3 separate regions of the Homo sapiens genome follow, and all the other regions are linked to region 1. The links come from fine-mapping of genetic effects on gene expression. A gene starts in region 1. Each other region holds a variant in brackets. All regions are shown on one strand. Distances are between the middles of the regions. Region 1 holds the start of NHLH1 (nescient helix-loop-helix 1). Region 2 overlaps DCAF8 (DDB1 and CUL4 associated factor 8). Region 3 overlaps LOC105371466 (a long non-coding RNA gene).

Region 1 (8,182 bases):
AACTGTGGCATAACACCATAGAAAAGACCCTGTCACCCAGCATCCCATTCCCAAAAAAAGTTTGGCAGGAATCGAAGTTAAACTGGGGAAGCAGGGACCCCTGGAAGGTTGGGGTCCCAATGGGCCTCAGATTGGATTTTTATTCCTTCCTGAATTCAAACTCCAAAGCTAGAGGAGCTCTCCCACTCCTATTGTGGAAAAGGGCAGCTGTTGCCCCTGTCCCCAGTCAGGGGAAACTTGGAGCAGGAGTGGAGGGGTCATCTCAGGAGGCCTAAGGAGAAGTCATTAGTCGGAGATGATGCAATTGTGAGTAAATGTTACAGCCTCTGGCTCAGGCTAGTTGGATGCTCAGAAGCTGGGGGCTAGGACCCCTAGAGTCCCCACTATCTCCCCCAACTCACAACTGAGAAGGAGTTAGATAAACTGAGGGAAGAAAGAAAAAAAGTGAAATGAGAGGGTATCCAGAAAAGGATAAGCTAGTGAAAGGAAACTAAGGAAGTAGGGGGTTCCTGGAAGGGCTGAAGGCGGAAAGGGAGGCTGAAAGCTGTGCTGAGAGGGATCCGAGCCTGAGGGGAGAAAGGCCAGGCGGGCGTGGCCAGGAGGGGAGTAAGCCCAGAGCTGGTGGTGACAGATGGGTGGACACAAAGAAGAGAGCTTCAGGGAAGACAGATGGATGGGGGAGGGAAGAGAAGAGGTTGGGGGGGTTAGGGGGGAGCCCAGTGGTTGGAGGCCATAATGAGATTGGAGATGGACTATGAGCTGAGGAGAGGTGAGTGAAGAGGAGAGAAGAAAGGGGAGGCCGCCTTAGGAGACAAAGGCAATACAGCCTAGAGGGCCGGGAGGAGAGGGCTCAGTTGGGTGCTGAGAAGGGGGGCTTCCAGCCGGGCTGGCAGCAGAGAGAGTGACAGATTGTGTAGTGAGCCAGAGTGGAGACCCGCTGTCACCTTCCAGAGGCACAGAGAGGTGGAGACAGAGAAAGACAGACTGACAGAGACCATGTGGAAAAACAAGGAAAGAAGCTAAGACAGAAGACATCCAAGACAGGCTGTCCCTTCCCAGAAACAACAGCTCCTGCCCAGGAGGAGCAAGCTCTGCCTGTCTTGCTCCTGTGACCCAAAACACTGCCACTGTTACAAAATAACACCCTAGCCATAGGCCACTCCTGGGAAGGGTCAGGCGGTGTGGCACAGCGAGGGTTAATGTCGTCTGCTGTCCCTGCCAGCCGCTTGCCTGGTTGGGTCCCCAGGGCTCCCCACATATGTCACCCCCTCTCCTGCCAAACCCACTGCTTCCCAGCTCCTCCAGGCCCTCCCCCCACCCTCAAGGACAAGGCCCAGGCCCCTGTGTCTTCCCTACACACCAACCTCCCTCCCCTCCCTCAACGATCTACCTCTCAGGCTATGGGGAAAGATTTGTGAATCATGATCTGAAAAAGTGAATGCCTATAAAATGTAAAATAGCAGGAACACTCATTCTATTGTATCAGGTTTTGCTTGATTATCGGATTATAGCAAATAAAAGCCAGTGGAGATTTTTAAACAACAAAAAGAAAGTAAAATAACAACAAACTATAAAGCCATAATCATCCTCCTTATCCCCAGGCCCTGGTCTTCCTGTCCTCCTTGCAGCAAAGACCCACACACAACTCCAAGGGTTCTCCCTTTCACTGGGGCCAGAGGCCAGACAACCTGGGTTGGCCTCAGAGCTCTCCCCTGCCTCCACAATCATAATGCTTCAGATATATGTGTGTATGAAACTTCTTGCCACTTTTAAATCACCATAGGAGGTTGGGATGAGCACTTTATACAGTTCACCTAGCACTTTCCCATGCATTATTTCACCTGGGTGTCACTACTATAACAAAATAAAACTCAGCCAAGGTTAAGTGACTTATCCAAGGTCACCAGGACTTAGACCCATGTGTAGCTGCCCCCAAATTTAGTAGATGTAGTTCTTCCCACCATTTCATGCGTTTATGTCCTCTTTGTCACAACTATGTTCTTTTTTAGCTACTCCCCTAAGGAGCAAAAGCTGAAATCCTAAGTGAAAACTGGGGCAGGAGGCCCCAGAGTCCAGGATCCTGGGATGCCAGATGCAGAGGAGGAGGAGCAGCCCCCAGAGCACTCTTTCACCCTCCTCTCCCGTGGAACCTTAGCTTGAACTGCGACGGGTTCAGGCGGTGTGCTTCAGGGATGGAGGTTGCAGAGCTTAAGTATCTGAGCAAAATGGCCTGAAAGGAGGGAGCCCTGCAAGGGGTTTGGCTTCTTCCTGCATGCTCTATGCCATCCTCAAGGTTCCTTTCTGCTTCGGGGGTCTCTCTAGATTCTGCTTCTTTTTTCCTCAATGTCTTACTTTTTGGGATCTGGCCTCCCTGTTTCAGTAATAGTTCCTCATCTCCATCGTTCAGTTTATCACCTTTCCCCACCTTGTTCTCTTTGTCTCTGGTATTTTTTGTTTCCTCCCAACTGTCTGCTCTCTGCTTACCCCGTGCCTATGTGGCCCCACCTTGCCTTGGGGCCTCCCTCAGGACTCTGTCTCATGGTGTCAGTATTTCCCTGCCGCTGAATAGCTGTTTCCTCCACATATGTATTCATCCAAGTCTGTGTCTCCCTAGCAGCCTCCTTTTTTTTTTTTTTGACGGAGTCTTGCTCTTGTCACCCAGGCTGGAGTGCAATGGCACAATTTTGGCTCACTGCAACCTCTGCCTCCCGGGTTCAAGCGATTCTCCTGTCTCAGCCTCTCGAGTAGCTGGGATTACAGGCGCCCACCACCACGCCCAACTAATTTTTGTATTTTTAGTAGAGACAGGGTTTCACCATGTTGGTCAGGCTGGTCTCAAACTCCTGACCTTAGGTGATCCACCCGCCTCGGCCTCCCAAAGTGCTGAGATTACAGGCGTGAGCCACCGTGCCCGGCCACAGCATCCTCTTTTAAAGCCTCTCCCCAAGTCTCTATCTCTCCCATAGCTTGGGTCTCCAAGTCTTCCACAAAGCCTTGGCAACCTGGCAATTCTGTTTCCATTCTTTTTTTTTTTTTTTTTTTTAAATCTTTTTACCTCCTTTGTGTCTCAATCTCCCCATGAGACTGTGTCTTCCCATTTCCCTATGTCTTTCCCATGTCTGTTACCCAATGACTCTGGTTTCTCATTTTTTTCTCTCCCTGAGTCTCGGTATCTTCCCGTGTCTTTCTCGTCGTTTCCCTCCGCTTCCCCTGTCTCTGTTCATCTCCCCTTCTTTCTGTATCTCTCATCTCCCCCATGGCACTCTCTCCTGAGTCTCTTGGTCTCCCAATTTCTTGGATGGGGTGGAGGGCAGGAGAGTGGAGGAGGTAGAATTGTTGTTGCTGGGGGCTCATTAGGTGGAGATTGGTTTTTAATCAGCACCATGGCAATGATGATGCAAGAACTGAGATGCCACCTGATCCCCTGCCCCCCAGCCCCCCTCCTCAAGCCTCCTTTCCCCTCCAGCTCAGCCCATCTGCTGGCGCCTGGGCACCTGTCTGGGCCTGCCCAGGTGGGAGTTGGCACCTCCCAGACTCAGGGATGGGGGCAGGTGGGGGAGCTTGGGGAGGAATTATGGGACCCCCTTAGGGAATGCTTCACCCTGGAGAAAGCCCAGAAAAGGTTGACCAGCAACAGGGAAATGGCAAGTCCCTCCAGCCTGAAGGTGGGATGTGCTCCTACTAAGCTCTAGGCCCACTACACATATTATCTCCCTTAATTTCCATGGCAACCTAAGAAGCAGCTATAATCAACCCCATTTTACAGGAAAAGAGGTCCAGGCTCAAAAGGTTGTTATTTGTCCAAGGTCACACAGCTGACAGAGCCTTTTTCACTGTACCACACTACCTCTGGAGTCCTCTCCAGTCATGGTTCTTTTGAATACTCTCAAAGGTTCAGAGAAGACATCCAACAGCTGAGTGGGGAGAGAACTTCAGACACTGAAACCCTCTATGCACTGTCTCTCTATGCACTCTGGTCCCTGTGCTGCCCCTCCTCAATCCTGCCACTCGGCAACACACACATACACACACACACTCACACTTACATTCACATTCACACACACTTGCATATACATGCTGGAGGCTGCTGAGCTATTGATGGGAGCTTAATCAGTGCCCATTTGCATATAATTTTGTGTCTGGTTTTCTTATTGCTGATTTGATGCCCTCAAAACACACTCAGAGCCTGCCTAGGCTGCCCTGCCCTCCTCTCCCAGTGTCCTTCCAATCCTGGTTCTTCCTGTCTTGGCACTCCTCCACTCCTCTCCTTTTAGCCCTTACCTCTTTCTTCCTAAGAGCCCTCTAATTCCCAGTGGGTCAGGTTGGGCTGGCCAGCCTAGAAAAACTCCTTGTGGGGTCTGTGTCCCAAATTTGATCCTGCTCCTCCCCTTGGTGATGGGTTAGGTAGGAAGATAGCGGGTGGGGTAAGAGGGTATGGGGGTGATTGAGTCCCAGGGTGATGAGGGTAGGGGCCTGAACAGTTGCTACAGGCAGGCTGGCAAGCAGTGGGTACCAGCTTTATGAAGGATAAGAGCTTGAGGGCCAGGACCCTAGGGTCCTCTTCTGCATTTTAGTGCTACCCACTTGCTCTTTTCTCGGTTTCCCTGTTAGTACCTTGAAGAGTCTCCCTCTCAGGAAAAAAGAGACACCAGGAAGGGGCTGTCCAAGTCACGCTGGGACTCCGAATGGGGCCATGGCACTTAACCATAGCTTGCTGGGAGCCTCTGCCCTGCTGCCTCTGGTGTGGGAGACTGAGGGGGTTCATCTGTGGTCCTGCCCTGGCTCTCGCCCCAGCCCCACCCCTTCCCCAGCTCTCCATTTCTTGCTTATGAAATATGCATGGAGAACAGATGTCCCTGCTCCCCCGCTCCCCGCCCCCACCCAGGGCCAGCCCCCGCCCCCAGCTCCCGAGGGGTTCCCAGATCCCTCTGCCAATGGCTGCCTGGCCTGGCTGTTTAATATTGATGAGGGGGGGGTGGGCCTGGGCCAGCCAATGGAGAGCTGGGGGTGTGTGTGTGTATCTCCATATATATACATAGGGCTGGGCCAGCTCAGGTGTGTGTGTCTGAGGGTGTGTGTGTGAGTGTGGCTGGCCCCAGTACCTGGCCAAGCCCACCACTTCCACCTGGGCCCTACACCCCCACAATGTGTACCCCTCTTATCTGCCCTGGAGCCTGTACAGCCATGCCACGCTACCCCTGAGAGTCTAGAAAGCTGGTCACTAACTTTGCAGACGGATGAGCCTTGAGCACCCAGAGGAGACTGGGGCTGTCAACGCTGCCCCTTGTCCTGCCGGCTTGGATCCCCTGACAGGGTCCTTCTAGGTAAAGGGGAAACCATGGGCGGGGAGGGATGGGCGTGTCCCTCCCATTCTCTGGCTCAAGCCCCTTCCTAGAGCCTCCCTCTAGTTCTCTCCCTTGTGCGCTGTGTCTCTCCCTGTCTCCGCGTGTCCCTCTTCTCCACTCCTCCCCTTCGACTCTTTGTGCCTATCTATCCTCAGTTGGGTTAGGGCTGGCAGAAGTGGGGTGGGAAGTCCTGTCCTGCAGGCTTGGAATTGCTGCTCCCCTGATCCTTGGACCCTGGAACTTTGAGACCAGAAGTGGATTTGGGGGTGAGGACTTGATGGGTAAATAGAAGCTGCTGCCGGGACTGGAACTGGGGAGGACAATGGGGCCAGGTGGAGATGAGACTGGGGCCAGATGGGGAGCACGGAGAGGGGAAGGAAGGGCATGGCAAAGTGATGAGGGATGAAGGAACATAGGGACCGGGCAGAGAGAATTAGCCTGTGATAGATGTGATAAATGTGTTGGGAACTCCGCAGCTGAACTCCTGCTCCCAGCCCCAGCATGGGGGGTGGGGAGTTGGGGGCACTAAACATGTACTGGGAGGTGCTGACTTTGGGGCCTCCCACACTATTGCCATCCCCCCATAGTTCATTTGAACCCCAGAATATGGAATGTGTTCTCAATTTCAGCACTAACCACCTTCTGTTTCCTGTTAAGATTGTGTGTGTACTTGTCATCAGATGTGGATGACTTTGCATCCCTCCAGAGCTTCATAGCTGTTTGTTGGCTTGACTTGAACCTATCTTCTGTGTGGTGGGGTGGGGCAAGGCTTGGGAGGATCCTAACCCCTTTGAGAGTATCTATCAGACAGGAAAGCCAGGGCTGGGGAGGAAGGGGAGATAGTGATGGTGCAGGCACCTTGGTGCTTCTGTTTCTAATCATTCTTAGTTGAGCTGATGGTGAGTGGCCCACTGTTCCCCTTTAACACTGCACACAAGCAAAGCCCTTTCCCCAGCTTTTCCCAGGCCATGTTTGTGCTGCCTTGCCCTGATCTCCTCTGGTCCTAGGACAAGCAAACCTTAGCTGAGTCCCATAAGGGTAGCTCCAAAAATCTGTCTGTGTCCTCTGCAGGCCGTGTCTGAACCTTCCTTGGGCTATGGGAGAGTATGGGGGTAGAAGGTTGATTATGTTCCCTTTCCCCAATCTTCCTTGCCCAGCCTCCAAAAGGGCCAGGGAATGGCAAGGGCTGAAAATTTCGAAGACAGAGGTGGAGGAAGAGGCTGGTTGTGCACAGTGGGGTGGTGGTGAGAAGAGATATCTTCCCCTGGTTTTAGTGGACAGGATCTCATATCTACAATGGTTCTGCTGGGAAGGTTTGGGGAACTGGGAGGGGAGCTGTGCAGAGCTGGGGCAGCTGCGCAGAGCTCCATATGTCCTAGTCTATTCTACAATGGGCAATCTGTGTGTTTATCCGCTCCTCCACCTCAGGCAGCAAGGGTGGAGAGGGGCCCTGAGAGGGAGGGGACCACAGGGCCAAGGCTTGTATTCTCCCCTCACAACTGGGAAGCATCTAGAGTCATAGCTAACTTCTCTTGGGGCTGTGGCTGCAGTCTTGCTCAGATTTTTTCCTCCTTTTATTTATTCATTTAGATAAAAAACAGCATACAATTTATAATCTTAACCATTTTTAAGTGTACAATTCAGTAGTGTTCAGTATATTCACATTGTTGTGAAACAGATCTCTAGCAATTTTTCATCCTGCAAATGTATAATTCTATACCCACTAAACAACAACTCCCCTTTACCCCCTCCCTCCAGCCCCTGGCAACGGCCATTCTACTTTCTGTTTCTATGAATTAGACTACTTTAAATACCTCATATAAGTGGAGCTATACAGTATTTGTGTTGTTACTGGTTTATTTCACTTATCATCATATCCTCAAGGTTCATTCATGCTGTAGCATGTGACAGAACTTCCTTTTTAGGGCTGAATAATATTCCACTGTATGTATATAATACATTTTGTTTATCTGTTGTCTATTGATGGACATTTGGGTTGCTTCTACCTCTTGGCTATTGTGAATAGTGCTGCTATGAACATGAGTGTGCAAATATCTCTTTGACACCCTACTTTATTTGTATATATACCCAGAGGTAGGATTCCTGGAGCATATGGTAGTTCTATTTTTTATTTTTTGAGGAACATTTATACTGTTTTCCATAGTGGTTGCATCATTTTGCAATCCCAACAAGGCATAAGGGTTCCAATTTCTCCACATCCTTGCCAAGACTTATTTTTTGTTTGTTTGGTTTTTGTTTTTATAGTAGCCATCCTAATGGGTATGAAGTGATATTTCATAGTGGGTTTGATTTGCATTTTAATGATTAGTGATGTTGAACATTTTTTCATATGCTTGTTGGCCATTTGTATAAAATCTTTGGAGAAATGTGTATTCTAGTCCTTTACCCATTTTTTTCTTAAAAAATGTTTATTTATATAAATTTATGGGGTACAAGTGCAATTTTGTTACATGCATAGATTGCATAATGGTCAAGTCAGGGCTCTTAGGATGTCCATCACCTGAATAACATACACGGTACCCATTCTGTAATTTCTCATTTCACGCCCCTCCCAATCCCTCCTTTGCCCATTTTTAAATTGGGTTATTTGATTTTTTGCTGTTGTTGAGTTGTAGGATTTATTTATATGTTCTGGATATTAACCCCTTATCAGATATATAATTTGCAAATATTTTCTCCCATTCCATAGATTGCCTTTTCACTCTGTTGATTATGTTCGTCAATAAATTAAAGTCTGATGTGGTCCCGTTTTTTCTATTTTTGCTTTTTGTTGCCTGTGCTTTTGGTGTCATTTCCAAGAAATCACTGCTGAGTCC
Region 2 (8,182 bases), 120 kb before region 1:
AGCCTGTTATATATGCTACGAAAGTTTAGCAGTTACAGTTTTTTGAAATGCAGCTGGGCTTGAGCTTGGGAGTGGTGAGCAGGGACTGAAACACCAACCTAACAGGTCTGTAGAAAAGAAAAAATAAAACACCAAAACATCTAGTGTTTATTGTTAAAATTATGAGTAACAAATATAGACAATTTTGGAGGCCTTACCACATTAACATAAGGGCCAGAGGGTATCACAAGCTCATCAAGAAGTCCCCAACAGTAAATCACCAAGATCTAGAGTAGGGGTTTGCAAATTTTTTCTGTAAAGGGCCAGATAGTAAAAACCTTAGGCTTTGCAGACCATACGGAGCTCCACCACAACTACTCAACTCCAGTATGTAGAACAAAAGCAACTCATAGACACTACATAAACGAACAGGCATGACTGTATTCCAATAAAACTTTACAAAAACAAGTGGCAGGCTGGATTTGGCCTGCAATTTATAGTTTGCCAATCCTTGACCTAGCTAATGGTCAAGCTCCAAATCAATAGTATACTTTAACTCCTCTAGAACCCTGTGCCTTTCAACTAAACCCAGTGAAAAATATGAACCACTTTCCTTTACAAAAGATGAATGAATGGCAGTGATAAGAACATATGGAGCAATAAAAAAGCATGTTGAAAATCTCACTTATCCTTCCTCCAATCACATCAACTAGAATTTAGCCTGTTATCCTGACCTTCAAGGTGCTAAGGAATGCTGGACTCTGTGCTGCCCAACTATATCCATTTAAAGGCGGCTTCTCTAATTTAAAAGTTGGCTCAGAGGTGAAGAGCTGGTTAAATAACCCAGGTGGTAGTTATACTCTATTAGAATTTTTATATTCTGCCTTCAAATCTGCCCTAAAGCCAGTGATTTGACACTTGGCAGCACTGGTCCTGAAAAGAAGGAGGAGGGAAAGGAAGGAAGGAAGGAAATAAATGGAAAGAAGGGAGGGGAAGTAAGGAAAGGAAATAAGGAGGGGAAAGATGTCCCACTCCTAGTTGGGTTGTAACTTCATCCCTTATGTAATCACCTTTTTTTTTTTTTTTTTTAAAAAGACGGGGTCTCGCTATGTTGCCCAGGCTGGTCTCAAGCTCCTGGGCTCAAGCGATCTGCCTGTCTCAGCCTCCCAAAGTGCTGAGATTATAGGCATGAGCCACCATGCCCAGCCATGTAATCTCTCTATCAAACTACTACTTACTGTGGAAAGGGACCTCTCAATATAACTGGGAAGCTCATCTTCCCTAAAATTCCCTTGTTCCTACTAGCCATTAGATTTTATTTTTCTCCTTTACTAACAGCATTTCCTAGGTTCTGCCCATCCTTATAGCTTTATAGAACTCCAAACCACTTGACCTCTTAGAAGTACAGCTCTGTTATTGATATTTTGAAAATGATCAGATAAAATCAGAAGAAGCAAAAGCATAATATAGTCCAAGGTGTTTCCTGTGTAGTTTCCTAAACTCAGAACAACACAGGAAAGTTTCCCTCTCTCCACTAAAATCCAGGCCTCCACTCTATCTTGCAGGGAGGAGGACAACCTCAGTTGATAGTAAAAATAGCTTCACCTTCATTTTGGCCCCTTACCATTAGCTAAGTCTGTTCTGCCATCTGTGCTGCTCCCTTTGCTGGACATCTTGAATGATGTTTGCTGTAGCCAGCCTGGGTTTGGGAGAGGAAGAAACCAAAACAATTAGGAAACCACCTGGGAAAGAAGACAATAGGGACAAGGAGATTTAACAATGTACAGGTTTTATCATTTTTATAAAAATGATTTGTGTATGCATGCTTAACAGGTCTTCTCAGCTTGTGAAATTTTTTCTTCCTTATGTTTTCTTCCCTATGTTTAAAATCCATATAATGATATATTTTTGGGGAGGTCAAGTGCCATCTCTTTACTTCACTCACTGAGTAACTGGCAGTGATTTTTCAGATGCGAAAGTGGGAACTAAAATAAAACCTGGAACAGGAGGCACATATCAAATGACAGGTACTGCAAGCCAAGAGTCTCAACTCAATACATAAAGCTAACTTCAGCATTGCCCCCTAGGCAAGAATCTTCCAATGTAAATAAGTGACATATGTATCCTCAAACTCTGTACAACACTTGTTTTCACAACATAAAGAGGTGGGTCAGATTCTGAGTATCATTTTACACACAAATCAACAGAAATCAACCTCTTGGGGGAAGAGATTGAGCTTTCTGTTCACTCAGATGACTAACTTCAAACCTATTATTATTATTCTTTCTTTTTTTTTTTTTGAGACAGAGTCTCATTCTGTCGCCCAGGCTGGAATGCAGTGGCGCTATCTAGGCTCACTGCAAGCTCTGCCTCCCGGGTTCACACCATTCTCCTGCCTCAGCCTCCCAAGTAGCTGGGACTACAGGCGCCTGCCACCATGCCCACCTTTCTGTATTTTTAGTAGAGATGGGGTTTCACTGTGTTAGCCAGGATGGTCTCGATCTCCCGAGTGATCCGCCCGCCTCGGCCTCCCAAAGTGCTGGGATTACAGGCATGAGCCACCACGCCCAGCCCAACTAACTTCAAACTTATTAAAGGCACAGATACTAAGGATTATAGAGCTGAAACTAGAAATCAGGAGCACCCTATCCCTAGGAAAGAAGCTTAAGTTGTTTTGTTTCCCTTAGGACTAACAGTCAGAGTCTCTAAGCACAAAGACAAAGGTGGGGAAGAAAAAGGCAACATTTCCATTAAACCATCTCATCCCATTTCATATAATGGCAAACACTGTTTCACCTAACAGCACCAGCTTTCACCAGACTCATCTTTCCTTAACAAGGAATCAGGGTATCTAACTCACTTCCTTTTATGCCACTATAAAACATTCATATTTTTTTCAGAGCCTCACTGCCACCTCCAGTAAATTCCAAAGAGCAAAGAATAATATTATTCAGACCAGAATTTTATTAAGCCCTTTCAGTGACTTGGACAAAAGGCACTAGTAAAAGACAAAGTATAATTATGACCCCAGTCCTTGTACCCAGGCACACTGGCCTCTAATCTTTCAACAGCCCTTTCATTCCCATGACAATTATTCCAGAAGCAGCCTCATCCTTATCTTTTCCTCCGCTACCCTCTATAGAAATCTAAGCTGCTTCATTAAAAGTATCCTCTGTCAAAAGACAGTAGCCCAAAGATTGTTCATAATAGGCCAAGGTGGGAATAGAAATACTGCAAGACTGGGGCTGAAGCTGACTGAACTTCAGGAAGGGACACCTGGAAGGGTGATGATGAAAGACAATGGCAACAAAAAACAGATATGTGAAGCAACATGAAGAAAAATAGTGAGAAGCTGTTTGCAATGCATTTTGTTTTCCTCATTTTTGAGGTAGACAGTTTTGTATAGCATTCCTCACACAGCACTTGTTTTTCCCTCTCAACAGTCCTTGTTTATATTCTTTAGAATAGGAGCCTATCTTCTCCATCTAGAGTTTAAAATTATATTAATTCCTATCAAGTGGGGAAAATGTACTACTTTGTTAAGATTAATCCCAGCACTTTGGGAGGCCGAGGAGGGCAGATCACCTGAGGTCAGGAGTTCGAGACCAGCCTGAGCAACATGGA[G/A]AAACCCTGTCTCTACTAAAAATACAAAATTAGCTGGGCATGGTGGCACATGCCTGTAATCCCAGCTACTAGGGAGGGTGAGGCAGGGGAATTGCTTGAACCTGGGAGGCGGAGGTTGTGGTGAGCCGAGATCGTGCCATTGCACCCCATCCAGCCTGGGCAACAAGAGCAAACTCCGTCTCAAAAAAAAAAATTAAAAAAAACTTATAAACTAAGGTAATAAGCAGACCAGTGTAACATGAAGAACAGATCTGATGTTTTCCCACCTCCATAATCAAAACTCTTTACCATACGTTTCACCCCACTATTATCCACTCCCAGAGAATTCAAAAGCAGCTGCAGAGAACCTCTCTCAAAACCAAGCATCAACTCCTACAGGAGCCCAGACTGCCTGAACTTTTGACTCATAATTGCTCTAGAAAATACATGTGCACAGATGATAAAAGTAAGTAGAATTAAATGTCAAAATTTCTGCAGAAGGATACTCTAGAGCAGTGGTCTCCAAACTTTGATTATGAACCTATATGAGTGAAAACTTTGAGCAGGAACCTGATGCTCACAGGTGTGGCATGCACCTGTAATCACAGCTACTCAGAAGGCTGAGAAAGGACTGCTTGAGCTCAGGAATTCAAGACCAGCCTGGGCAGAACTGTGAGACCCTTGTCTCTATAAATCAGTCAAGGAGGCAGAGATGCTGTGCCCTAGGTGTCAAGTATAGGAGCCACTGAAAAATCTTTTCCAGCCAGGCACGGCAGCTCACGCCTATAATCCCAGCACATTGGGAGGCCGAGGCAGGAGTTGGAGACCAGCCTGGGCAACATAAGAAGACCCCCGTCACTACAGAAAAGAAAAAAATCAGTCAGGCATATGCCTGTAGTCCCAGCTACTTGGGGTAGGGCTGAGATGGAAGGATCACATGAGCCATAGAAGTTGAGGCTGCAGTGACCTGTGATTATACCACTTCTCTCCAGGCAGGACGACAGAGCAAGACACAGTCTCCAAAAAAATAAAAAATAAAAAATCTTTTCCATTACCAAAGAATACAGTCTTAACTTTATAAACTGAGGTCTGCAGAGAACATATTTGATTCAAATCCAAACTATCTTCTTCACTTTTCACTGTATTTCCAACAAATCCACTATTTTTACTTTGATCAACTTTCATGTAAAATCTAGTCCAAAGCTAATCTTGCTGAGGTTGGAAAAGCTGATGAGCTCACTGTCCCAGGTAGTTGGAGGAGTTTAATTAGATTAGCTCCACTGTTCCTACTCTAAAAATAACCATAACTCCTGCCAAACTGAAGGTTAAAGAGTAACCCACTGGAGGGTGAGGAAAAAAGACCCAGGTGCCATTTTAATTTCACTAAGAAATTCCAGTGACCTAGATTTTTCTTGTCTTAATAAGAATAAAGCCTTAAATTTTTAACCAATTACATGACAAAATATTAACTAAAAACCAGGCAGAAAGACTTTACTACGCTGGATAAGAGTACTCTGTAAAAGAGATACCAAGTGTCTCTTGTTTAAAACTACTGGGGCTGCTCTTTTCCTCTAATATGATGAAAGATCTGCATAAGAGACTACGTATCCCTTGTCCGGTGTATCCTCTTACCCAAAATGCTTGGGGCCAGAAGTGTTTCAAATTTTTAAATATTTGCAATATACCAGTGGAGCATCTCAAATCAGAAAATTCAAAATCCAAAATGCTCCAACGAGTATTTCCTTTGAGCATCAAGTTGGCATTCGAAAAGTTTCAGATTTCAAAGCATTTTAGATTTCAGATTTTTTAATTTGGGATGCTCAACTTGTACCAGAATAACTGAACATTCAACTGCCAAAAGAAAAAAACTAAAGAACCTCAATCCATACATTGTACAATATACAAAAGCTAAGTCAAAATGAATCACAGACCTAAATATAACTTAAAACAACACAAGTTCCAGAAGAAAACAAAGAAAATAACCTTTGTGACCTTGGGTTAGGCAACAATTTCTTAGGATAGGACACAAAAAGCACATACAAAAAAATTAATCAGTTGGATTTATCAAAATTAATAAATTCTGATAAATCTGAGCGGTGGTTCAGGCCTGTAATCCCAGCACTTTGGGAGGCCAAGGCGGGTGGATCACCTGAGGTCAGGAGTTCGAGATCAGCCTGGCCAACATGGTGAAACCCCCGTCTCTACTAAAAATACAAAAATTAGCCGGGCGTGGTGGCACATGCCCGTAGTCCCTGCTACTGGGGAAGCTGAGACAAGAGAATCGCTGGAACCCAGGAGGTGGAGGTTGCAGTGAGCCAAGATAGTACCACTGCACTCCAGCCTGAGTGACAAAGAGAGACTCCATCTAGAAAAAAAAAAAAATTAAAATATCTCCAAGAGATACTGTTACAACAATGCAAAGACAAGCTACAGACTGGAAGAAAGTATCTACAAAACATGTATTTGATCAAGGACAGTAACCAGAATATCCTTTAAAACTGTCGCAACAGGCTGGGGCTGGGCGTGGAGGCTCACGCCTGTAATCCCATCACTTTGGGAGGCCGAGGTGGGCAGATCACGAGGTCAGGAGATCAGGACCATCTTGGCCAACATAGTGAAACCCCGTCTTTACTAAAATACAAAAAAATTAGGCAGGCATGATGGTGCGTGCCTGTAATCCCAGCTACTAGGGAGGAGGAGGTTGCAGTGAGCTGCGATCGCGCCACTGCACTCCAGCCTGGTGACAGAGCAAGACTCCATCTCAAAAAAAGAAAAAAAAAAAACTGTCACAACTAAATAATTATCGCGAGCTGGATATGGTGGCTCACACCTGTAATCCCAACACTTTGGAAGACTGAGGTGGGAGGATCACTTAAGTCTAGGAGTTCAAGGCTGCAGTGAGCTATGATCCTGCTACTCACTGCACTCCAGTCTACGCAACAGAGTGACACCATCTCAAAAAAAAAAAAGAGGGCGGGTGTGGTGCCTCACACCTGTAATCCCAGCACTTTGGGAGGCTGAGGCGGGCAGATCACCTGAGGTCAGGAATTTGAGGCTGGCCTGACCAACGTGGTAAAACCCCATCTCTATTAAAATACAAAATTAGCTGGGGGTGGTGGCACATGCCTGTAGTCCCAGCTACTGGAGAGGCTGAGACAGGAGAATCGCTTGAACCTAGAAGGCAGAGGTTGCAAGTGAGCTGAGATCGCACCACTGCACTCCAGCCTGGGCAACAGAGGAGACTCCATCTCAAAAACAAACCAAAAAAAGTACTGTAAATAATAATCCCTTGAAAAGATCCTCAACATTATTAATAATTAGGAAAATATAAATTAAAACCACAATGAGAATCCACTAAACACTTATTTGAATGGTCAAAAATTGTTTAAATAACAAAAATTTACTTTATTAAGTACTAACAAGAAGTAGAGCAACTACAACTCATATACACTGTTACTAGAAATGCAAAACAGTACAGTTACTTTGAAAAAAGCAATTTGGCAGTTTCTTATGAAGTTAAATATACACTTATCATACAACTCAGGAATCCCACTTCAGCTTCAGGAATTTATACAAGAAAAAAGAGGCTCAGACCTGTTATCCCAGCAATTTGGGAGGCTGAGGCAGGAGGACTGCTTGAGCCCAGGAATTAAAGACCAGCCTGAGTAACACAGCAATACTCCATCTTTAAAAATAAATAAATAAGATAAACAAGAAGGAAAATGTATGTCCACAAAATTAAAAATACCCTGTAGGTGAATGTTTTAATAGTTTTACTTAAATTCATCAAAAAACTGGAAACAAATTTTCTTCAGCTGGGTCATAGATAAACAAATTGTGGTAGGTCCACACAATGGGATACTACTGAGTAATAAAAAGGAATGAACTACTGATACAAGCAACAACATGGATAGATCTCAAGTATGTTATGGTAAGTGCAATAATTCAGACTCAAACAGCTATACAATATATGATTCCACTTATAGTACTTTCTGGAAAAGATAAAACTATAGGAATAGAGGGATCAGGGATTGCCAGGGCTTGGAGGTAGGGGAATGAAACTGACTACGAAAGGGCATGAGAAAACCTTTTGGAATGATGGAAATGTTCCATGCGCCAATCACAGTGGTGTTACATAACTATGCCTTTGTCAGAATTAAAAGAATAGGCCAACTCAAAAAAGGATAAATTTTACTGTATATAAATTATACCTTAATAAACGTGGCCTAAAAAGAGCGAATGCAGGCCGGCGCAGTGGCTCATGCCTGTAATCCCAACACTTTGGGAGGCCAAGGCGGGCAGATCACCTGAGGTCAGGAGTTCGAGACCAGCCTGACCAACATGGAGAAACCCCATCCCTATTAAAAGTACAAAAATATTAGCCGGGCGTGGTAGTGCATGCCTGTAATCCCAGCTACTCGGGAGGCTGAGGCAGGAGAATTGCCTGAACCTGGAAGGCGGAGGTTGCGGTGAGCCAAGATCGCACCATTGCACTCCAGCCTGGGCAACAAGAGCGAAACTGTCTCAAAAAAAAAAAAAAAAAAAAAACAGGATGAGAGAAGAGTGATGGGGGAAAATCATGCAAATTGTTAAATGACAT
Region 3 (8,182 bases), 27 kb after region 1:
CATTGATGGGTCTTGACTCTTTATCCAATTTGACAGTCTGTGTCTTTTAATTCGGGTATTTAGCCCATTTACATTTAAGGTTAATATTGTTATGTGTGAATTTGATCCTGTCATTATGATGTTAGCTGGTTATTTTGCCTGTTAATTGATGCAGTTTCTTCATAGCGTTGATGGTCTTTACAATTTGGCATGTTTTTGTAGTGGCTGGTACTGGTTGTTCCTTTCCATGTTTAGTGCTTCGTTCAGGAGCCCTTGTGGTGACAGAATCTCTCAGCATTTGCTTGTCCGTAGAGGATTTTTTTTTTTTTTTGAGACGGAGTCTCGCTCTGTTGCCCAGGCTGGAATGCAGTGGCATGATCTGGGCTCACTGCAAGCTCTGCCTCCTGGGTTCACGCCATTCTCCTGCCTCAGCCTCCCGAGTAGCTGGGACTACAGGTGCCCACCACCATGCCTGGTTAATTTTTTGTATTTTTAGTAGAGACGGGGTTTCACCGTGTTAGCTGGGATAGTCTTGATCTCCTGACCTCGTGATCCGCCCGCCTCAGCCTCCAAAAGTGCTGAGATTACAGGCGTGAGCCACCGCACCTGGCCCTGTAAAAGATTTTATTTCTCCTTCACTTATGAAGCTTAGTTTGGCTGGATATGAAATTCTGGGTTGAAAATTCTTTTCTTTAAGGATGTTGAATATTGGCCCGCACTGTCTTCTGGTTTGTATGGTTTCTGCCAAAAGATCTGCTGTAGTCCGATGCGCTTCCCTTAGTGGGTAACCTGAACTTTCTCTCTGGCTGCCCTTAACATTTTTTCCTTTATTTTCAACCTTTGTGAATATGACAATTACGTGTCTTGGTGTTGCTCTTCTTGAGGAGTATCTTCGTGGTGTTCTCTGTATTTCCTGAATTTGGATGTTGGCCTGCCTTGCTAGGTTGGGGAAGTTCTCCTGGATAATATCCTGAAGAGTGTTTTCCACCTTGGTTCCACTCTCCCCGTCACTTTCAGGTATAGCAATCAAACTTAGATTTGGTTTTTCACATAGTCCCATATTTCTTGGAGGGTTTGGTCATTTCTTTTTACTCTTTTTTCTCTAACTTTGTCTTCTCGCTTTATTTCATTAATTTGATCTTCAATCACTGATACCCTTTTTTCCACTTGATCAAATTGGCTACTGAAGCTTGTGCATGCGTCACAAAGTTCTCGTGCCATTGTTTTCAGCTCCATCAGGTCATTTAAGGTCTTCTCTACACAGTTTATTCTAGTTAGCCATTCGCCTAACCTTTTTTCAAGGTTTTTAGCTTCCTTGCAATGGGTTAGAACATGCTCCCTTAGCTCGGAGAAGTTTGTTATTACTGACCTTCTGAAGCCTACTTCTGTCAACTCGTCAAAGTCATTTTCCATCCAGCTTTGTTCCATTGCTGGTGAGGAGCTGTGATCCTTTGGAGGAGAAGAGGCACTCTAGTTTTTAGAATTTTCAGCTTTTCTGCTCTGATTTCTCCCCATCTTTGTGGTTTTATCTACCTTTGGTCTTTGATGTTGGTGACCGACAAATGGGGTTTTGGTGTGGATGTTCTTTTTGTTGATGTTGATGCCATTCCTTTCTGTTTGTTAGTTTTCCTTCTAACATTCAGGTTCCTCAGCTGCAGGTCTGTTGGAGTTTGCTGGAGATCCACTCTAGACCCTGTTTGCCTAGGTATCACCAGCGGAGGCTGCAGAACAGCAAATATTGCTGCCTGATCCTTCCTCTGGAAGCTTCGTCCCAGAGGGGCACCTGCCTGTATAAGGTGTCTGTCGGCCCCAACTGGGAGGTGTCTCCCAGTTAGGCTACACAGGGGTCAGGGACCCACTTGAGGAGCCAGTCTGTCTGTTCTTGGAGCTCAAATGCTGTGCTGGGAGAACCACTACTCTCTTCAGAGCTGTCAGACAGGGACATCTAAGTCTGCAGAAGTTTCTGCTGCCTTTTGTTCAGGTATGCCCTGCCTACAGAGGTGAGGTCTGTAGAGGCAGTAGGCCTTGCTGAGCTGTGTTGGGCTCTGCCCAGTTCAAGCTTCCAGGCCACTTTGTTTACCTACTGAAGCCTCAGCAATGGCAGACACCCCTCCCTCCTCCAGGCTGCTGCCTTGCAGGTCAATCTCAGACTGCTGCGCTAGCAGTGAGCAAGGTTCTGTGGGCATGGGACTCGCTGAGCCAGGCACAGCCGAGAATTTTCTGGTCTGCCGGTTGCTAAGACCTTGGAAAAGTGCAGTATTTGGGCAGGAGTGTCCCATTTTTCCAGGTACAGTCTGTCACAGCTTCCCTTGGCAAGGAAAGGGAAATCCCCAAACCCCTTGCACTCCCAGGTGAGGCGATGCCCCTCCTTGCTTTGGCTTGCCCTCCGTGCGTGGCACCCACTGTACAACCAGTCCCAATGAGATGAACCAGGTACCTCAGTTGGAAATGCAGAAATCAGCCATCTTCTTCATCGATCACCCTGGGAGCTGCAGACTGGAGCTCTTCCTATTTGGCCATCTTGGAATGGACTCCAACCTTCTTTAATTTTTTTGAGCAATATTTTATAGTTTTCAGTGCATAGGACTTGCACATCTTTGGCTGGATTTATCTCTCAGTATTTTACACTTTTTGGTGTCACTGTAAATGGTGTTTTAAATTTAATCTTTTGAGTGTTCATTGCTAGTGTTATGGATTGAATTGACCCCTCCTTCCAAGAGATACATTGAAGTCCTAACCCCTGGTACCTGTGACTGTGACTTTGTTTGGAAATAGAGGTCTTTGCAGATGCAATTCATTAAGATGAGGTAATGGAGTGAGATGGGCCCTTAATCCAATATGGTTGGTGTCTTTTAAGAAGAGGGAAATTTGGACATAGACACACAGGGTGGGAAGATGACGCAGAGATCCAGAGAGAGAATCCAGCCAAATGACAATGGAGGCAGAGAAAGGAGTGATTAATTTACAAACCAAGGAATGCCCTGGACTGTCAGAAAACACCAGGAGCTAGAAGAAGCAAGGAAGGACTCTCTCCTAGATCCTTCAGAGAAAGCATGGCCCTGCCAACACCTTGATGTCAGATTTCTATCCCCCATCACCTTGGTAATGAGTGTTTATCATTTTTAAGTTCTGGTATCATTTCAAGTCCTCTCCTCTAGTTACTTTGAAATATACATAAAATTGTTGCTAAGTATAGTCACCCAAGTCTGCTATCAAACATTAGAACTTATTTCTTCTATCTAACTATATGTTTGTATACATAATCAACCTGTCTTCATCCTTTCCTTCCCCTCCACCCTTTCCAGTCTCTGGTATTTTATTTGGAGATTTTCTAGATATCTTTCTATTATTGGTATTTACTTTAATACCATTGCAGCCAGGGAATATATTTTATATAATCTGATTCTTTTAAAATTGATCACTACTTATTTTATGGCTATCTTGGTAAATGTTCCATGTGCAATGTTCTTGAAAAAAATTCTGCTGTTGGATGGAATGTTCTATAATCAATTAGTCAAATTAGTTGATACTGTCGGTCAAATCTTTTACATCTTTACTGATTTTCTATTTGTTCTATCAACTATTAAGGTATGGGTATGGATATTACTGATTATCCTTGTGGATTTGTCAATTTATCCTTGTAGTTCTATTGGTTTTTGCTTCATGATATATATATACACACACACACACACACACACACACACACACACACATATATACACACAAACATATATACATACACAGAGAGAGAGAGAGAGAGAGATAAAGAGAGAGTCTTACTCTGTCACCCAGGCTGGAGTGCAGTGGCGCAATCATGGCTTACTGCAGCTTTCACCTCCCCAGGCTCAGGTGATCCTCCCAGGTAGCTGGGACTACAGGTGTGAGCCACCATGCCCAGCTAATTTTTTGTATTTGTATTTTTATTTTTTTCTGAAACTGAGTCTCACTCTGTTGCCCAAGCTGGAGTGCAGTGGCATGATCTCAGCTCACCACAACCTCCACCTCCTGGGTTCAAGCGATTCTCATGCCTCAGCCTCCACCTCCTGAGTAGCTGCAACTGCAGGTACATGCCACTACGCCTGTCTAATTTTTGTATTTTTAGTAGAGACAGGGTTTCACCATGTTGCCCAGGCTGGTCTTGCACTGCTGGGCTCACGTGATCCACCCACCTTGGCCTCCCAAAAGTGCTGAGATTATAGGTGTGAGCCACTATGACTAGCCCAGCTGTTTTTTTGTTTTTTTTTGTTTTTTTTCAAATTCAGTCTTTGTATAGACTGTCAAAAATTGTCAGTGCTGACTATGTTGCAAGTCATCACAGTGGGGTATTGGGAAAATTTTTCAATTAGCAATAGTCATGCCTCAGATAAACCTCATTGGCTATGATACTTGCCATTGTGCAAAGCTGCTTCACGTACTTTGAATCTCTGTTATTGGGTACATAAGTGTTTAGAGTTATTATGTCTTCTTGATGAATTGACCTCTTTATCATTATGAAATGATTCTTTTTTATCCCGGGCAATATTCTTTGCTCTGAAATCTACATTATTAGTATTAGTATAGCGATTCCAACTTTATTTTGATTAGCATTAGCATGGTACATTTTTTCTATCCCTTTAGCTTTAACCTATTTTTGTCTATATTTAAAAGGATTTCTTTTAGGCAGTATACAGTTAGATATTGCTTTTATAATCTAATCTGACAAATTATGCTTTTTAATTGG[A/AGTATGTATGTAT]GTATGTATGTATGTATGTATGTATGTATTTTGAGACTGAGTCTCACTCCGTCACCCAGGCTGGAGTGCAGTGGTATGATCTTGGCTTACTGCAACCTCCGCCTCCTGGGTTCAAGTGAGTCTCCTGCCTCAGCATCCCAAGTAGCTGGGATTACAGGTGCACCCCACCACGCCTGACTAATTTTTGTATTTTTAGTAGAGAGAGGGTTTCACCATGTTGGCCAGGCTGATCTTGAACTCCTGACCTCAACTGATCTGCCCTCCTTGGCCTCCTAGAGTGCTGGGATTACAGGCATGAGCCACTACGCCTGGCCTTTAATTGGAGTATTTAGACCATTTATATTTAATGTGATTACTGATATAGCCTGGTTTAACTTTTGGTCTTGTTATTTGTTATCTATCTGTACCATCTATCCTTTGTTTCTTCTTGCCTCTTTTTCTCAGGAACATAAATAACTGAAATTCAAAATAGTGAATATGGCCGAGCATGGTGGTTCATACCTGTAATACTAATACTTGGGGAGGCCAAGGCAGGTGGATCAGTTGAGGTCAGGAGTTGGAGGCCAGCCTGGGCAACATGGCGAAACCCTGTCTCTCCAAAAAATACAAAAGTTAGCTGGGCATGGTGGCAGGTCCCAACTACTCGGGAGACTGAGGTGGGATGATCAGCTGAGCCTGGGGAGGTTGAGGCTGCAGTGAGCCAAGATCATGCCACTGCCCTCCAGCCTGGGCAACACCGCAAGACCCTGTCTCAAAAAAAAAAAAAAAAAAAAAGACAAAATAGTGAATATGGTGGGAGAGATTCAGAGAAAGATTTGGGACTTTATAGAAGAGAGATATTAAGTCAAATCGATGATGTCAGGAATGACTTACTCAAGAAAATATTCAAATTGAACCTTGAAATATTTTGCATATGAGTGATGGTGTAAGGAAGGTGCTCCATATAGAGGCAATAGGATGAACAATGGGATTGGAGGCAGTAAAGCATGTGTTTGGGCTAGGGAATAATAGATTGTTCAGATAGCCTGAGAAAGAGTGGCAGGAGAGATGTGGAAAGTGCTTATGTTATTAACAGCTTCCTATGGATGTCCCTACCGTGATAGTCCACAGATACCTGAGATACCTGTCAAATCCCACATATGATCTACCCTTTAAACCTGCTCTCTCAATAGCCCCTAATTTTATGTATGGCATGACCAGCTTCTTTAATATACATACCAGAAGCCTCTGAGTCATTTTAAATGCCTCTTTGTTCCTCAACCCTATTCATCCCACCTGCAGGTCATCTCTTCCAAATTTCAGCTTTTTTTTTTTTTTTTTTTTGAGATGGAGTTTCGCTCTTGTTGCCCAGGCTGGAGTGCAATGGCATGATCTTGGCTCACTGCAACCTCTGCCTCCCAGGTTCAAGCAATTCTCCTGCCTCAGCCTCCCAAGTAGCTAGGATTATAGGCATGTACCACCATGCCCAGCTAATTTCGTATTTTTAGTAAAGACGGAGTTTCACCATGTTGGCCAGGTGGTCTCGAACACCTGACCTCGTGATCACCCGCCTCAGCCTCCCAAAGTATTGGGATTACAGGCCTGAGCCACGGTGCCCGGCAATGAGCTTTCTTTTCTATCCTTATCTATCCCCACAGCCTTGGAGCCAGGCTCAACTCCCCTCCACCACCCTGCCCCCAAACTATTTAATTAGCCTTCTTACTGGTTTTGCTACTTCTAGATTTTTCTCTCTTTAAACCAATGCCACACATACCCCCCAGCATGCCCTGAGAATGGATGTGAATTCTGTGTGTGTACATGTGTACATTGTTCTGGTGAGCGCTTGTAGCTTTCATCAAAGTCTCAAAAGTCCACAAAAGGCTAGGAGTCACTACCATGATCTTTATTTCAGATGAAACCGTGCTCAGTAAATGTGGTGCAGTTGACAGACTGCTGAACAGTAAGTCAGGAGACCCGGGTTTTAGTTCTGGGGCTGCCACTAATTAGCCGTATGACTTTGGGCAATGAGGCACTTACTTTGTACCTGTTTCCTCATCTGTAAAATTCAGAAAGTCTCTTCCAACCTCAAAATGCTATTATTGAGAAATTACCATACAATTATTATTAAGAAATTGCCATACAATGTCATAAATGCTAAAACAAAGGTATGCAGAGCTTTGAGAGCACAAAGGAGGTTCTCCGGGTGTGGGGTCATCTAGCTTTGCTTGGGAAAATTGGTAAAGAGTTGCAGAGGAGGCCACAGTTCAGTCTTGAAGGATCAACAAAACTTTCCAGGCAGAAAGAAGGAGGAAGGCATTTTAGGCAAAGGAAACTTTGTGAGAAGGCAGAGAAGTAATAGAGCCTCAAATTGGCAGAACAATGAGTAGATGCGTATAGTTTGGATGTACGTGTGTTGAAAGTTTGGGCTTTAAATGCACAGGGAGCACTAGGAGATAAGCCTGGAGAAGGCGAATGAGTTGGGGCCTGAAGTTTCTTATGTATGGTGCCAAAAAGTTTTGACTTTATCTTGTAGACAGTGGGAAGCCATGGATTGTTTTAGGTAAGAGAGTGACAGGCTGATTTCCCTTTCATAAAAATCACATTGGCAACATGGGAGGAAGACGGATTGGAAGGGAATGAGACATGTTTGGAAATGATAAAGGTCTGAATAAGCCAAGGGGATAGAGGTGGAAGGAAGATAATGTTGTTCCTTTTAAACCTATTACATTTAAGATACCCAAGGAATATCCAAGTTAAAATGTATGGTAGGAAGTTGAAAATTTGAGTCTTATGCTCACAAGATAGACCTGGATTTAGCAGCACTCATAAGTGAGTACTGACTGAAGCCACAGGAGTGAATGACATTGCTTTGGAAAAGCATGTGGAGTGGGGAGTAAGGGGGCCAAAGGCTGAATTCTGGGAAATAATAGTATTTGAAGTCAGGAGTAGAAAACACATTGGAAGGATGGCTGGGGTGCAAGGAGCTGAGGAGTGAAGGGAGGAAGAGAGATAGTAAAGAATCTATCCATTTTTTTTTTTTTTTTTTTTTTTTGAGATGGAGTTTCACTCTTGTTGCCCAGGCTGGCGTGCAATGGCACGAACTCGGCTCACCGCAACCTCCTCCTCCTGGGTTCAAGCGATTCTCCTGCCTCAGCCTCCCGAGTAGCTGGGATTACAAGCACCTGCCACCATGACCGGCTAATTTTGTATTTTCAGTAGAGACGGGGTTTCTCCATGTTGGTCAGGCTGGTCTCTAATTCTCGACCTCAGGTGATCCACCCGCCTCAGCCTCCCAAAGTGCTGGGATTACAGGTGTGAGCCACCAGGCCTGGCCTAAGAATCTACTCTTTTAAGAAGGTTGGATGAGAAAGAAATAAAAGCGAAGGCTAAAGCAAGAGGAGGCTGCTGAGTGGAGGAAGGTATTTCATTTTATTATGTCTGCTGGGCAAAGATCAGTGAAGAGGCCGAAGTTGGTTACAGGAGAGATTGTGAATAATGGATGGA

What was found. PIP is the estimated chance that this variant, and not a neighbour inherited with it, causes the effect.
Region 2: its variant is fine-mapped to the expression of NHLH1 in whole blood (TOPMed, PIP above 0.99).
Region 3: its variant is fine-mapped to the expression of NHLH1 in whole blood (INTERVAL, PIP above 0.99).

Annotation. Positions count from the first base shown.
Region 1 is chr1:160,362,014-160,370,195 of GRCh38, forward strand. It overlaps NHLH1 (nescient helix-loop-helix 1), which reads left to right and starts at 5,058. Exons shown (of 2, transcript NM_005598.4): 1 at 5,058-5,324.
Region 2 is chr1:160,242,357-160,250,538 of GRCh38, forward strand. DCAF8 (DDB1 and CUL4 associated factor 8) reads right to left here. Exons shown (of 14, transcript NM_015726.4): 3 at 1,604-1,678. The coding sequence starts at 1,652. Among named protein-coding and RNA genes, the nearest start is that of DCAF8-DT, 15 kb to the right of the region's middle. The variant G/A (reference allele first, on the strand shown) is at 3,604.
Region 3 is chr1:160,388,527-160,396,708 of GRCh38, forward strand. All of the region lies in intron 3 of LOC105371466 (a long non-coding RNA gene), which reads right to left. It also overlaps the pseudogene RNU4-42P. Among named protein-coding and RNA genes, the nearest start is that of VANGL2, 7.9 kb to the right of the region's middle. RefSeq lists an enhancer at 4,041-4,090. The variant A/AGTATGTATGTAT (reference allele first, on the strand shown) is at 4,700.